2 separate regions of the Homo sapiens genome follow, and region 1 is linked to region 2. Evidence: fine-mapped expression QTL. A gene starts in region 2. The other region holds a variant in brackets. All regions are shown on one strand. Distances are between the middles of the regions. Region 1 overlaps FAM178B (family with sequence similarity 178 member B). Region 2 holds the start of FAM178B (family with sequence similarity 178 member B).

The links. PIP is the estimated chance that this variant, and not a neighbour inherited with it, causes the effect. A credible set is the group of variants that fine-mapping cannot tell apart.
Region 1: its variant is the best candidate, but not a certain one, in a credible set for the expression of FAM178B in aorta (GTEx, PIP 0.51).

Annotation. Positions count from the first base shown.
Region 1 is chr2:96,902,091-96,910,417 of GRCh38, forward strand. It overlaps FAM178B (family with sequence similarity 178 member B), which reads right to left. Exons shown (of 17, transcript NM_001122646.3): 13 at 530-617. Among named protein-coding and RNA genes, the nearest start is that of SEMA4C, 36 kb to the left of the region's middle. RefSeq lists enhancers at 1,598-2,097, 4,582-5,177. The variant G/A (reference allele first, on the strand shown) is at 4,945.
Region 2 is chr2:96,982,528-96,990,854 of GRCh38, forward strand. FAM178B (family with sequence similarity 178 member B) reads right to left here and starts at 4,053. Exons shown (of 17, transcript NM_001122646.3): 1 at 3,714-4,053. The coding sequence starts at 3,786. RefSeq lists enhancers at 3,090-3,610, 3,611-4,131.

The DNA.
Region 1 (8,327 bases), 80 kb before region 2:
CACCCAGCTTTTACTACAATTTTTTTTTTTTTTGAGATGGAGTCTCGCTCTGTCGCCCAGGCTGGAGTGCAGTGGCGCGATCTTGGCTCACTGCAAGCTCCACCTCCCAGGTTCACGCCATTCTCCTGCCTCAGCCTCCCGAGTAGCTGGGACTACAGGCACCCGCCACCACACCTGGCTAATTTTTTGTATTTTTAGTGGAGACGGGTTTCACCGTGTTAGCCAGGATGGTCTTGATCTCCTGACCTCATGATCTGCCCGCCTCAGCCTCCCAAAGTGCTGGGATTACAGGCGTGAGCCACCGTGCCCAGCAACTACAATTTTTTAAAAAGACAGGCTCTCAGCTCACTGCTCTGTCCTCAGCGCCTAGCACATGGCTGGCATGCAAGCGGTAATTCTTGATGAAAGAACATGAGTAGAGAGTTCAGAGCCAGCTTAGCTCTGGGGCCTGATGTTCCTGGCCTTTGGGGAAAGCCTCCAGAGCCCGCAGGCCATGGCCTTCCTGCCCAGGCCTGAAGCAAACACTCACCTGGGTCTTCTCTTGCCAGAGAGGGAGCATCTCCTGCTGGCCCAGCATTCGAGCAATGACCACAAGGCTGAGCTGGCTTCGAAGCCGCCTGGGGGAAAAGCGACAGCCTGAGAGAGGGTGTGCTGGAAGTCGGGGAGCCCGAGCAGGGGGCAGGATACCCATGGAGAGGGGACTTTGGGGGAGCCACCCTCCATCTGGGGTACCCCAGCAAAGGGCTTTCTCCATTGGCTTACAGCATTATGTATTCTAGGAGGAATGAAACTCTCATGATCAGAAAATTAAATAATAAATCCACACAAAAACTCAAGTCCCTGGTAATTTCAGAGGCCCACAGAGCTGGGCTTTTCTTAGTTTTTTATCCCCTCTGCCGATACATATCCATGGATCCATAGAGGCAGCAGCACTGAACTGCTTATTTTATTTTATTTTATTTTTTTTGAGACGGAGTCTCGCTCTGTCGCCCAGGCTGGAGTGCAGTGGCACAATCTCGGCTCACTGCAAGCTCCGCCTCCCGGGTTCACACCATTCTCCTGCCTCAGCCTCCTGAGTAGCTGGGACTACAGGCGCCCGCCACCATGCACGGCTGATTTTTTGTATTTTTAGTAGAGACAGGGTTTCACCATGTTAGCCAGGATAGTCTCGATCTCCTGACCTCGTGATCCGCTCGCTTCAGCCTCCCAAAGTGCTGGGATTACAGGCGTGAGCCACCGCGCCCGGCTGAACTGCTTTTCAATACGCCTCTGCCTCTTCTTTCCTTTGTGGCTCCACCTCTGCAGGGTGGGGGAGGCTGGGGGACTGACTTGGCCTCAGCAGGCCAAACTTCATGGTTTTCTTTTCACCCAGTATCCACTGGGCTTTCCTTTGGGAAATCCATCTCCTGCCAGGCTCCCAGGACAGGCACCTGACCCAGTCACTGAGAGGTGGCCTCGGGCTGTGGCTGAACTATCAGCAAAGTGCAGGCATGCAGGCCTTTCCAGCAGGGCCGCCACTACAGCCACTGGTGGCCATCCTGCCTCCTGGAGGGAGAATCAGGAAGAGGAAGCCACAGGGAGGCAAAGAGGCTGAAACAGAGCCCTGAGAATGCCCAGAGACAGCTGTGCCTGGAACCCCTGGCCCCTGGACCTCTCACCCCAGCCTTGCATGCAGAGAGGCTCCCTGGGTGAACGGGAACTGAGGCAGGAATGGCTTCCTCAAAGCTCCGGTGAGGCTGGGATCACAGAGGCATTAATCTAGGGTCTAAAATCCTGGGGCACTTTTAGATTTTCTTAGGAAAGAGTCAAGAAAGTCAGAGGACTCGACAAAGCAGCGGACTCTTGGATTTTTCAAAAAGCAGAACAAGCAGCAGCAGCACCGCACCCCAGAAGAGCCAACACGAGCTGGGGCCATGCCAGGTGCTGGTGGGGGCGCAGGGTTATGGGCACTCACACACAGCTGGCAGGATATTGATGGGTGCGCCACTGCCCAAAACTGGCAAGATCTACTAAAGATGTGTAGATGCCCACCCCATGCCCAGCAATCCTACTCCTAGGTACAAAGTTGCAAAAAAAGGAGAGGCACTAGAAGGTTTGCACAGCAGCAGCAGCAGCAGCAACAGCACAGTGGACAGACAGATCAGGCTGTATCCATACAGCTCAGTCCTACGGGGGGGTGTTGTGATTATGAATGAACCACAAGTACCTCCAACAACATGAACGACCTCCAGTGTGGTAGGAAAGCAGCCAGACACAAAAAATGTATCTGCATGGTCTCATTTTTTGTTTTGTTTTGTTTGAGACAGAGTCTCGTTCTGTCACCCAGGCTGGAGTGCAATGGCATGATCTCGGCTCACTGTAACCTCTGCCTCCCGGGTTCAAGCATTTCTCCTACCTCAGTCTCCCAAGTAGCTGGGACTACAGTCACGCACGCGCCACCATGCCTGGCTATTTTTTTTTTTTTTTTTTTTTTTTGTATTTTTAGCAGAGACGGGGTTTCACCATGTCAGCCAGGCTGGTCTCAAACTCCTGACCTCAGGTGATCCAACTGCCCTGGCCTCCCAAAGTGTTGGAATTACAGGCATGAGCCATTGTGCCCAGCCAACAGGGTCTCATTTATATGAGGTACAAACATGGGCATGCCAGCTACAGTACTCCACGCCTGCAGTCCCTGCTACTCAGGATGTTGAGGTGGGAGGACTGCCTGAGCCTAGGAGTTTGTGGCTACCTTGGGCAACACAGCAAGACCCCAACTCTTTTATGCCCGGGTTTAAGCGATTCTCCTGCCTCAGCCTCCCAAGTAGCTGGGATTACAGGCGCCTGCCATTACGCCCAGCTAATTTTTATATTTTCAGTAGAGACAGGTTTCAACATCTTGGCCAGGCTGGTCTTGAACTCCTGACCTCATGATCTACCCACCTCAGCCTCCCATAGTGCTGGGATTACAGGCAACCCCAACTCTTAAAAAAAAAATGCAAATGGCAAACTTCAGCTGTTGGAAGTCTGGATACTCATGACCCTGGGGTGGGGGTGGGGGGCAGGTTCTGATCATGTTTCATTTCTTGACCTGGGTGCTGGCTTCACGTGCATTGGACTTGTGAAAATGCACTGAGCCATACACTTAACTGTCTTTGCTCTATTGTTTGTATATTGTAGTTCAATAAAACAATTAAGAAAAAAATTCAGGCCAGGCACAGTAGCTCACGCCTGTAATCCCAACACTTTGGGAGGCTGAAGCGGGTGGATCATTTGAGGTCAGGAATTCAAGACCAGCTGGGCCAACATGCTGAAACCCCATCTCTACTAAAAATACAAAAATTAGCTGGGCGTGGTGGCACACACCTGTAATCCTAGCTACTCGGGAGGCTGAGGCAGGGAATTGCTTGAACCCGGGAGGCAGAGGTTGCAGTGAGCAGAGATCACACCACTGTACTCAAGCCTGGGCGACAGAGCGAGACTCCATCTCAAAAAAAAAAAAAGAAAAAGAAAAAGAAAAAAAAAGTTCAGCTGGAAGGGAGATAGGATTGCTAGATTTAGCAGATTAAAATATAAGATGCCCAGTTAAGTCGGGTGCGGTGGCTCATGCCTGTAATCCCAGCACTTTGGGAAGCCGAGGTGGGCGGATCACCTGAGGTTGGGAGTTCAAGACCAGCCTGACCAACATGGAGAAAACTCGTCTCTACTAAAAATACAAAATATATATACACAAAAATATACATATATGTGTGTATATATATATATATATATATATATATATATATATATATATATTTTTTTTTTTTTTTTTTTTTTTTTTTTGAGATGGAGTTTCTCTCTTGTTGCCCAGACTGGCATGCAATGGTGCGATATCGGCTCACCGCAACCTCTGCCTCCTCGGTTCAAGCGATTCTCCTGCCTCAGCCTCCGGAGTAGCTGGGATTCAGGCATGTGCTACCACGCCCAGCTAATTTTTTTATTTTTAGTAGAGACGGGGTTTCTCCATGTTGGTCAGGCTGGTCTTGAACTCCCTACCTCAGGTGATCCGCCTGAGTGTTCTGCCCACCTCAGCCTCCCAAAGTGCTGGGATTACTGGTGTGAGCCACCGCGCCCAGCCAATACTTTTTCTTTTTCTTTCTTTTTTTTTTTTTTTGAGCAGGAGTCTTGCTCTGTTTCCCAGGCTGGAGTGCAGTGGCGGCATCTCAGCTCACTGCAAGCTCCGCCTCCTGGGTTCAAGCGATTCTCCTGCCTCAGCCTCCCAAGTAGCTGGGATCACAGGCATGTACCACCAAGCCCGACCGAAAATAATTTTTCTGGCATAAGTTTATCCCATGTGATATGTGCATCGTGTCTAGCAACCCTGAGAGGGACCAACCATTCCCCTCCATGCCTGACTGTGAAGGCCTGATGTGAACCATCGTGGGGGTGCCCTGACCCTGGGCCCCTTCAGCCTCAACCCCCTCCTGTGCAGCACCACTGTGTACTCACTCAACACTTCCCACTTCCCCCACACTGAGCACTGAGGAAAGGCAGCGCCCACCCGGACTGAACCATGGGATAACTAACAGAAGCCCCTTATCCCCTCTCTACGGCCCCTACAACAGACCCCCGTGGGTGCAGGCCACCCCGTGGCCCCACACCCAGAGCCCCAAGCTTCAGGTTCTCCCCCACGCACAGGCCTTCGCCTCCCTGTCAGACAGGGCCAGCTTTCCAGCTGTTTGGGAGCCCCAGCAGCAGCTGGGCCGGGAACACAGTGGGAGGTCAATGGCCCCTCTGAGCTGCTCCACAGTGAACTCAAAGCCAGTCAGAAGTCTGCATCTGGGCTTCATTAATCCAAAACTTGAGGCCTGCGCGGGAGCTCGTTTACTCGTTTACTCACAGCGGGCGAGGAGGGCCTGCCCGGCCCGGGGGTGAGGGGAGCAGGCAGGCCGGCAAAGCAGTGCCAGGGGTGGTTCCAGAAGGGAAGAG[G/A]CGGGCAGGGTGGGTCAGGATGGGGCTGTTATCCAGAAATGAAGAAAAGCACCACAAGAAGCACCAAGAGGGTGCATGGATGAAAAGAAACCCACATGTGAGTGGCGAGCCCCCTTGCTGTCCCCGCCTGCCCACTGCCTTTCATCCTGATGGCCCTCCCCGCCTTTTAAACCCCGTCCTGCATTCTTAGTTCCCACTGGGACACAGCAAGGAGGGGGCAGGGGGCGGGGCGAGACCATTTTTTTATTTTACAGACTGAGAACTTATTCCATGGAGAAGAAAAAGAAAAGCCTCACCCCACCACCACCCAGACTGTGCAGGGCACAAGCAGAGGGGCTGGCTGAGGCTGGCTGTGGGCTCTCCCTCCCATAGAAGAGGCCTGACCCCACCTGGCAAGGCCTCCCCGGAACTCCAACCAGGTTCAGAGGAGGAGGCAGAAGCCATGGGGCCATCCCAGCCACTGTCATATAAGGCAACAGGCTCCAGCCCTGGCGTGCACCAGCCAGGCCAGGCTAGGCCAGGCCAGCTTCTGCCTCCGCCCTGTCCCCCTCCACCCACCAAGGGCCTCCACAAGACCAGGACACTGGATTAGCACTCAGAGGAGTCGAAGGCACTGAGACATTCACAAATGACTTTTCCAAACCCGCAGCAGGGCCAGAAGTGGAATGCCAGCGCTCTGCTTCCTAGCCTCCGCAAGGGGCACCCAGGAAGGCAAAGGCACCAACCACGTGGGCTGCTGGGATGTCGGGCAGTGACATAGGCCAGCACAGCCCCTCTGGAGCCCCTTGTCTTCACTCCCTGGGAGGAGAACTGGGCCCTGCCAAGACTGAACTGCCCTAAAAGGCTGTCAGGCACCTGGCCAAAGGCATGAGCTGCCTTTTCCAGTCTCCAGGGCAGCTCAGGAAGCAACGGCAGTGGCCTGTTCCACCGTGGCAATGCTGCCTGACATGCTGCCTCAGGGCGTCCGCCTGGCTCGCACCCCGGGCCTCTTGTCCATCAGGCTGCCTGTCAGCCACCTGCTCGGCACTCCTTCCCTGGACTCTTCATTGCGCACTTGCCAGGTGGGAAGAACAAGGGGGTGGGCTTAGAAGCTGGTTGTCCCTCCCGGGGGTCTGCAAGCCCACAGCCACCAGACTGCCTGGTCATCCACAGACCAGTCTGAGCACACAGAGTGTGGACGGGAATAGACGGCGGGACACAGTCGGCCACAGACCCAGACGAGTGGACCACCACAGGGCAACATGAGGAACCCGTCTATATATAACCACGCACATTGACGTGGAGAGGCCCCACAAACCAGGTGTTGAGCCAAGGAAGCCAGACCCAAGGGAGAATGCTCTGCATGGTCCCATTTATATAAATGTTTAAAAACAGGCAAAATTGGGCTAGGCACAGTGGCTCACACCTGTAATCCCAGCACTTTGGGAAACTGAGGCAGGAGGCTCATTTGAGGTCAGGAGTTCGAGGCCATCCTGGGCAACATAGGGAGACCCCATCTCTCAAAAACCAACCAACCAACAAAACAGGTAAAATGAATCTATGTGATGGAAGCTGTGAAAGTGATTACCTCTGCAGGAGGGAACGCCTGGCAGGGGCCTGATGGGGCTTCTGGGGAGCGGCAGACATTCTGTCCCATGGTCAGGTGGTACATGGATGATCTCTTTTGCAAAGGGCACGAAGTGTCCACCTATGATATGGGTCCTTCCATTCACACGTATTATAAGTAAATTAAAAGGTACACATGAACAATCATACCAACTTCCATTCTCATCTCCCTCTTTGTATGATAAAAATCACAGAACCTCAGGCTTAGAAAACACCTTGAAGTCTGCTGGGCGCAGTGGCTCTCGCCTGTAACCCCAGCACTTTGGGAGGCTGAGGTGGGAGGATCACCTGAGGTCAGTTCGAGACCAGTCTGGCCAACATGGTGAAACCCCGTCTCTACTAAAAATACAAAAATTAGCCGGGTGTGGTGACAGGTACCTGTAATGCCTGCTACTTGGGAGGCTGAGGCAGGAGAATCACTTGAACCTGGGAGGCAGAGGTTGCAGTGAGCCGACATCACGCCACCGCCCTCCAGCCTGGGCGACAGATCAAGACTCTGTCTCAAAAAAAAAAAAAAAAAAGAAAAAAGAAAAAAGAAAACACCTTGAAGTCACCTAATCTAGCTTCTGCATAGTTATCCATTTTAATTCTCTTTGCCACACCCCCAATAAGTGTTCACTTCAGCAAAGGAAGTGCAGTATCTGCCAAGACAGCCCAAATTCATTTACCGGACTAACCAAAGGAAATCGTTCCCATATTTTGCCAAAACCTGCCCTTCTGGGACTTCCACTCAAAGCTTCTGGATCCTGTCCTCTGGGGCCTCCAGGAGGGAGCTCTCCGCCAACCTAGGTCCTCTACGCTTGGAAGAAGTTGCCACATTCCCGTGGCTGCCCCTTCCTGCAGGTGCCACAGCCCCCTCATTCCCATCTTTTTGTATCTTTTTTTGCCATTTTGGTTTGGGTCCTCTGACGGCCCTGGGGGTTGTCAATGTTCCCTTTCAAGTGCGACACTCGGAGTTGAGGCTGATGCTCATTTTCTTGGCAGCCCCACAACACAACGCAGTTAACAGATTGAGCCCAAAGTCTTTTTTTTTCACACGTCTTGCTGTCAAATCCCATTTCCCAGATCCTGTTCTTAATTGTGCAGCTGGGCCTCCCTTTTCAACTCAGTCCATCATTACAGTCTGTTGAGATCTTCTGGGATCTTCGGTCTGCTGTCAGTTGTATTCATGTCATCTGTGAATCTGACCATTGTTCCATTAATAGCCTCATCCAAAACACTGGGCCTGCCCTGGCCAACCTGTGAGTGGAGACAGAACTCGGGGTGGTGACAGGGCCTGCCCTCTGGGCACACTCTGATGGCCAGCAGCACCTTTTGATAATGAGCCCACTTCATTCTGTCATCATTTGACCCGCATTCCTTCATGCCGAACCCAGCCTATGGTGACAGCCTCTACCAAATGCCCAGGAAACCTACATACAGGCACTGCACAGTCCTCTCTGGAGTATGATTCTGGTTGACCTGTGGAAAAGTGAGGCTTGCCTGGTATGATTTCTTGTTAGGACTCCTAGAAAGCAGTGTTTCCTTTTCTACGTATGTGCTCCCAAGCCGGAATCCCCTAGAGAATAACCTGGAGGAGCACATCAAGCACCATTGCCCCCATCTCCTGGAAGCCCTCCGCCTCCAAAAGTCCCCATGGAGCCACGGCCCCAACTTCATGTCTCCCAGGAGCAGTGAGACGCCGTCCCACCGGGGAGACGGCCTCCTCTGCACAGTGAGGTTGGTCATGCAGCCTCCCACACTCTCTTAGGCTTTAACCCCCTTCGACGACCAATATT
Region 2 (8,327 bases):
GCTGGGATTACAGGCATGAGCCACCGCACCTGGCCTAATTTATTTATTTATTTTTGTTAGAGACAGAGTCTGTCTCTGTCATGTAGACTGGAGTGCAATGTCATGATCACAGCTCTCTGCAACCTTGAACTCCTGGGCCCAAGCAACCCTCCTGCCTCAACCTCCTGAGTAGCTAGGAGTGCAGGTTCACACCACCATGCCCAGCTAATTTTTTTTTTTTTTTTTTTTTTTTGTAGAGACAGGGTTCTTGCTATGTTGCCCAGGATGGTCTTGAACTCCTGGGCTCAAGCAATCCTCCTGCCTTGGCTTCCCAAAGTGCTGGGATTACAGGCGTGAGCCACTGCACCCAGTCTAATTTATTTTATTTTAGAGATATAGTCTCTCTCTGTCACATAGACTGGAGTGTACTGTCATCATCATAGCTTCCTGCCACCTTCAGCTCTTGAGCCGAAGCAATCCGCCTGCCTCAGCCTCCCGAGTAGCTAGGACTGCAGGCACACACCACCATGCCTGGCTAATTTTAAAATATTTTTGTAGAGACAGGGTTCTTGCTACCTTGACCAGGTCAGCCTTGAACTCCTGGGATCAAACAATCCTCCTGCCTCAGCCTCCCAAAGTGCTGGGATTCCATGAGCCACCATGCCTGGCTCTAAATGCACAAATCTTAAGTGTTCAGCATGATTGATTTTTATGTACATATGTGTACATTTAGTATAAATGTGTGTCTGTGTGTGCATATATATACACATATACATACATATGGTAACCATTACCAGATCAACATATTGAATATTTCTTACATTCTAGAAGTACCTCCTCCAGTCAATAACCCCAAAGGTTATACTACTCTGCCTCTATCACCACCGATTATTTTGCCTGTTCTTGAACTTCACATACATAAAATCATATATATATATTTTTGAGACATAGTCTCGCTCTGCTGCCCAGACTCGGATGGTGTGATAACAGCTCACTGCAGCCTCAACCTCCTGGGATCAAACAATCCTCCTGCTTCAGCCTTCTGAGTAGCTAGGACTACAGGTATGTGCCACCATGCCCAGCTAATTTTTATATTTTTCTGTAGAAACAGTTTCATTGTGTTGCCCAGGCTGGTCTCAAACTCCTAGGCTCAGGTGATCTGGTCACCTCAGCTAACAAAGCGCTGGGATTACAGGCGTGAGCCACTGCATCCAGCCAAATCATCAATTTTGTGCACTTCTGCATATATTTTATTCAACATTATGCATGTGAAAATCATCCACGAACTACTGCTAAATGTATGTTGTTGCATGCTATATGCCTGTAGCAGTAGTTCATGCAGCAGTTCAGTAATCTTTATTACTATACAATATTTCATCATATGAATAACTACTACTTATTTATCCATTCCGCTGTTGATGAGCATTTGAGTTATTTCTTGTTTCAAGGTATTATGAATAAATCTGCTATGAATTTTTTTTTCCAAGACAGTTTCGCTTATTGCCCAGGCTGGAGTGTAATGGCACAATCTCGGTTCACTGCAACCTCCGCCTCCCGGGTTCAAGCGATTCTCCTGCCTCAGCCTCCTGAGAAGCTGAGATTACAGGTAGGTGCCACCACACCCAGCTAATTTTTAGTAGTGATGGGGTTTCACCATGTTGGCCAGGCTGGTCTCGATCTCCTGACCTTGTGATCTGCCGCTTCAGCCTCCCAAAGTGCTGGGATTACGGGTGTGAGCCACTGTGCCCTGCCAAAGTGGTACATAAAAACTTTCACTCCGCCACCAGGAAGACAATTTGCCCAACCTGTTCAATACAGTTCCCGCTCAACAAACCCCAATTTAGCATCTTCTATGTGTCAGGCAGTATGCTGAGCATTGGGACCTCAAGGATGAGGAAGATGCAGTCTCTGCCCTAGAGGAGCTTACAGCAGCAGGAAGTTTCTGTCATAGGACAGACCCAGGGCTCACCAAGACTCAAGCAGATGATGAAGCCTGGGGCTCACTGGCCCAATCAGCGTATTCAGACTGGCTGGCTGCTTATGAGGCTCTTGGGCCAGGGCTGCCTGCTCAGTGGGCAGCTGACTCTAGCTGCTGCAAAATGCCTTTCACTCAAAGGTGCTATCTACCAGTGATTATATGGCATTCCAATTTTACCTGGAAGGGAGATGCAGCTACCAGCTGTTTCTTCCCTCTCCCAACCACAAAGTAACACATTTTTCATTTGTCTATCTGTTGTTTCCAGGTTTTTGCTTTTGCCAATCCCCTCCCTCACATGCCTTGAAACAAGCACTTTCAAAGACAAAGACATAAACAACAAAAGGGTGCAGGCTGAGGTGGGTCATCTTCTCTGCCTGCGTCTCCAACTCTGGATCCTGCAGTTACTGGACTCAGGCCATGGCTGACTCCTTCATCACAGCTAAGATGCTGCTGGGTTTAAGGCACTGTGACTTTCTGTGCCACTAAGACCGACAAAAAGCTGCCAAGTGAACGATGACACAAAGAAAGACACAAACTGTGGGACCCAGCCCAACTTCAGAGCTGCTAAAATGTGAACAAAAATGCATCCCGGAATGGATGGAAACCGATCATTCTAGTTGGTGTGACCTGCTCCAGTGCCTACAGTACGTGTCCTGACAGCGTGGGAGGGGATATGAAGGCCCCCCAGTCAAACAGGAGACAGCGTTAGTCTCCAAACTTAACTTTGTTATCTCTTTCCCTCCTGGGGCCCAATACCCGCCAGCCAGGACCTGTTTCTCCTCCATCTCACATTCTTTCCAGGTTCAGGACTGAAGTCGTCTTGTTCAGCTCCTTGACTTGGCCATGCTCACTCTACAATGCAGCCCATGGATGGCGCCCCCTCTGCCCAGCACATCCCTCTGCCTGGGCTCTTGTCTCCCCGAATCCTGCAAACCCCAGCCCCAGCCTTTAGCGTTCAGCCGCCCTCCCCGCTTCCCTCATCCTCCCTCGCGTCCTCGCAGTGAGATTTCAACATGTCATCTCAGTTTTTTTGTTCTTTTACTTTCCTGACTACAAGAAAAATAAAATAATCTGTCTTAAAGTGTAGCATGAGGCCAAATAATTACGGAATCCCAAGTGCTTTGGGCCCTGATGTCAAAAGAGCCAAGATGAATTCAGAATATTACAATGGTGCTGTTTCTGCGAATACTGCTTTTTCAAGACGCCTTATTCCTAACATCATGTTTTATATCCATCCTTTTAAACAAATATTTAATAGCTTGGGAATGCTGGCGAGAGCAGCGGCTCCTGTCAGCAAGGACTGAGCTCACAATTTGAAAGATGAAAGGAGATGCGTTCTACCCACAAAGAAAACGGTCTCCAGCATCATAAACTCCACATCCATCAAACCGGGCAGGGGCTGGGAATAGAAAGCCTTTCTGGAAAGAAAACACCAGCTACCCTTTGCACCCTGGGGAACATTAAAAATCAAAACAAAACATGCCACATCAACCAAAACATAAACCAGTTCTCAAACCAATCTAAGGTTCCACCCCACCAAGGCCGGCCGCGCAGTGGCCTGTGGAGAGGAGGGCCCGGCTCACGTCGGAACCCGAACCACGCGGGGTCGCAGGAACCTGAAAAGCGCCAGAGTAGCCCGGCGGCCGCACCGGGGCTGACCTGCAAGGCCTGGACCAGCCAGGAGTCCCAGGGAAGTCGAGTGCTCTCTGAGCGCTAACCACGCGCCCCTGCGGTTCCTCGGCCTCAGTTTCCTTACCTGTAAAATGGAGCCGCTGATCCTGCCTCCTGAGTTGTGGAGCGAGGCCCGCACCTGGAAGCCTTGGCCACATAGGGCGGGAAGGGCAGGGCTCCGGGGTGAGGGAGGGTGGCGGGAATTCGCACGGCCTCAGAGGACGGGGCCAGCTAGCCGGGAAAGGAAGCAGGAGCAGGCTCCCCAGGCGGCGCAGTGGGAGGACCCCAAGAGTTGCGTCCCTAGATCCAGGGCCGCCAACGTGGAACCTAAAGATCCAGTTCTGGGGATTGAGTTCCGACTCCAAACCAAGCGGCCAGCTCACAGCCGCCGCCGCCGCCAGCTGGGGAGCTCGCCGGCCAAGTGCGCACCCTCTTCCTGTTAGCCCTCCACGTGCGCGCCCTCTTCCTGCTCGCCCTCCACGTGCGCATCCACGTGCGCGGGAATTGGCTGGCGGAAGCTCCTGCCCCCAGGCAGTCCTGGGTCACGCGCACTTGTAGTAGCTTGCATTTACCAAGACAGTGAGACAGTGGCCTGGCGCGGTGTCTCATGCCTATAATCCCAGCACTTTGGGAGGCTGAGACGGGACGATTGCTTGAGCCCAGGAGTGAGAGACCTGCCTGGGCGACATGGCGAAACCCCGTCTCTACTAAAAATACAAAAATTAGCCTGGCGTGGGCAGGGCGCGGTGGCTCACGCCTGTAATCCCAGCACTTTGGGAGGCCGAGGCGGGCGAATTGCCTGAGGTCAGGAGTTCCAGACCAGTCTGGCCAACATGGTGAAGCCCTGTCTCTACTAAAAATTAAAAAACATTAACCGGGCTTGGTGGCTGGCGTGCGCCTGTAATCCCAGTTGCGCGGGAGGCTGAGGCAGGGGAATTGCTTGAACCAGGGAGGTGGAGGTTGCAATGAGCCGAGATCGCGCCACCGCACTCCAGCCTGGGCAGCAGAGCAAGACGCCGTCTCAAAAAAAAAAAAAAAAAAAAAAAAAAAAAAAAAAAAAAAAAAAAAAAAAAGCCGGGCATAGTGGTGCAGTGCCTGTAGCCCCAACTACTTCAGAGGCTGAGGTGAGAGGATCACTTGAGCCTGGGAGGCGTAGGCAGAGGTTGCAGTGAGCCGAGATCGTGGCACTGTACTCCAGCCTGGCGAAAGAGCAAGCCCCCATCTCTAACACACACACACACACACACACACGTGTGAGATAGCTGTGTCTGTTTGGCAGTGATGAGCTTCCCTTTATGGGAGATTTACATAATTATTCATAAAGGAGCGGGAATGGGCATTACTGTTAAGCATGTTACGGGGTCTCCCAGATGTGCATGTGCGTGCTAGTACACCACATCACATGTCTCATTAGCATTTTAATTCCTCACCCAGGGGTGTGTTTTTTAGCATTAAAATGAGCATAGGTCATTCCAAGGACACTCTAATCATGGGTTTCTGCACTTGTGTGAATTTGGGGATTTTCCCTTCTGCTGTTCATCCTCTTCGCTGCAGGATGTTCTAACTAGGAGCCTGATGCAGTTTATGCACCAGTGGGCGGTTTGTTCTCTACATCAATCTGGCAAGTTCATTCCCCTTTAAAGGAGGCTATGACCACTGTATCTAACCGACCTCATTTTCCCCCTCAGAGACTTTGGGTCCATGTTCTTATGAAATGTGGAGGGCTGGGTCATTTTTTCTGGAGCTGCTTCGTGCTGAGACAGGACCAGGGCCCGAAAGTCTCTTCTTGCCTGATTTAAAGTGATAGGGGTCATATCCTCCACTGGGATAAGTTGAAATCCTTGCATAACTATCAATCTAGGAATTGTTGTAACCTAGAAGACACAGACTTTAAAGGAGCTTAAACAAGCAAGGACCAAAGGTCAGTAGTAATAAGATGGCTATTGTAGGTCCCATGAAAGGTAGCAGAATGAAGCATCACATCATTATTCAGCAAGCAGAAGAACAAAAAGAGCTCCTACAAATAGGAGACCTGAGATGGGACTACCTTATGTTAAAGTAATATTAATCTCTTTATTTGGGGTGTTGGCATCTTTTCTTGAAAATGAATGTTAGGTCTTCTATAGGCTTACAAAAGGATTTTTAATTTTTAGTTGTTGATGTAGAGTCCTGTGGAAACGTAAGGGAAACAGTTTTTATCCTAGAGAGATGCACCCAGCTGGCAATGTCCTGGATTCTCTGGACTATGGTGTGTTATGGTGGTCAGCTGGGCTTTTGAGAGTGCTCCTATGAGAAGGGGTTCAGTTGGTTTCATTGGTTTTAAAGAAGCCCCCAACGAGGGTAGCAACAAGGGAGTTAGGCATTCACGTCCTTGAGTCTGCAAATTAAAGGTTGGGTGGCTGGGCACGGTGGCTCACGCCTGTAATCCCAGCACTTTGGGAGGCCGAGGCAGGCGGATCACGAGGTCAGGAGATCAAGACCATCCTGGCCAACATGATGAAACCCCGTCTCTACTAAAAATACAAAAAATTAGCCGGGCGTGGTGGTGGGCGCCTGTAGTCCCAGCTACTCAGGAGGCTGAGGCAGGAGAATGGCATGAACCCAGGAGGCGGAGCTTGCAGTGAGCCGAGATGGTGCCACTGCACTCCAGCCTGGGCAACAGAGTGAGATTCCATCTCAAAAAAAAAAAAAAAAAAAGGTAAAAAGGTTGGGTAAAGTATCTGGTCCGGGTTTTTCATCAATTCCCGTGGCAGTGCAGTGTTTGGCCTATTTGGCCTACTAGGGTCGACGGCAGAATGTAAGGACTGACAGGCTGGTCCCTGTATGTAATAGAAAATTAGCTACACCTGCCACGTGCAGGGTCACTGGATTCCTCTGTGGTAATGGGGACTGAATGACAGCCAGTGTTAGCCTTGGGTCTCCTCAGTCTTTAGTCAGGGCCATCAAGGAATTGGAAGCCCCTGTCTCCCTACGGAGTTGGGGGCAGTCCTGCTTCCGGTGACTGGCATCTCTGCATTGTGGATATGGTCTAGGTGGAGCGGACTTTTGGGCATTTTGTCCCTTGGTCTGGCAGTTTTGGGGCCAGTGTCCTGGTTTTAAGTGTAGCAGGTGTCCCCAGATTGGGGCTTGGTCTGGACTGGCTTGTTCTCTCTGATAGCAAGGGCCAATAATCGGAGGCCTGGTTTATGTCTCTTGCCTCTTCCCTCTTTCACTTTTTAGCCTCTTCTACTCTGTCTCATTATAGAAGACTTCAAAGGCTACATTAATTAGCTCATTCATTGGTGCCTGGGGACTTACAGCCAGTTTTTGTAACTTTCTCTTAATATCTGGAGCAGATTGACTAATAAAATGAGTCCCCAGAAGAATTTGACCTGCCTCAGAGACAGCATCTACATTGGTATATTTTTCTAATGCCTTTACAAGGCACCCCTGTGAAGACTCAAAAGGACCATATAATATTTCAAAGGTGCTGGGTTGCAGATTGGTCTTGGGAGCCGCTCTTACTTGGAGGAACGCTAGAGGCAATCACTTTAATAAGGACTCAGAAGTCTCTTGCCAGAGCTTCGCCAGAGTTTTCTTTACAAGTAGCTTTTTCTAGCTTTCCTGAGGATGGAGGTCTCCAGGAAGCATGTAAATGATCACTTACTCCTAGAGTGGTAGCACTTGCTGGGTTATTTTGGAAACAAAGGAGGGGCCATTGTCGCTTTGGAGTGACATAGGTAGCCCAAATCGGGGAATGATTTCTTTTAAGAGGCACTTGTGCCTTTTCTGTTTTGGTGGAGTAGGCTTCAATCTATCCCATGAAAGTATCTGTAGAGATCAGTAAGTGCTTAAATCTTTATACTGGTGGAACTTAGGGAAAGTCTAACTGTCTGTCTTCCCCTGGGTACCTTCCTCTCCTCTGTACTGGCATCAGTAATGGAAGTGGCCTTATTTTCCTTTCTGGGTTATTGATAGAGTAAAGTGGTCTCGCTGTAGTGTGTGCTTTTACAGTAGTAGCTAAGCCTGTTCCCTTAAGGGTTCATGTGACCAAAGCGTTAGAGAGCCCCTTCCTAGGTGTCTGTAACCCCCTTTGATTAATTTGCATTGATGACCTTGAGGTATTAAAATTTTTGAATTTTGGGGCCGGGCACGGTGGCTCACGCCTGTAATCCCAGCACTTTGGGAGGCTGAGGTGGGCAGATCACGAGGTCACGAGATCGAGACCATCCTGGCTAACACGGTGAAACCCTGTCTCTACTAAAAATACAAAAAAATTAGCCAGGCGTGGTGGCGGGCGCCTGTAGTCCCAGCTACTTGGGAGTCTGAGGCAGGAGAATGGCGTGAACCCGGGAGGCGGAGCTTAAAGTGAGCCGAGATCGTGCCACTGCATTCCAGCTTGGGCGACAGAGCAAGACTCCATCTCAAAAAAAAAAATTTGAATTTTGGGTCCACCATCATTAGGGTCTTGGTATTATCCCTGTTCAGTTGCCCACTCCCTTTCAGTTTGTGTGTGTGCAGGCACTAGCTCAGGAGCCATAGTTTCTGGGATGGGAGCCCCTGCTACAAATGGAAGGGACACAGCCTGTTGAGCAGTTGCATTTGCTAAATTATCATTTTTTTTTTTTATTGTTGTAGAGTTCCCTCTTTGGTGTCCCCTGCAGTGCATAACATCAACTGGTAACTGCTTAGTCTTTGGGCTAAGTCTGACATTGAGAAA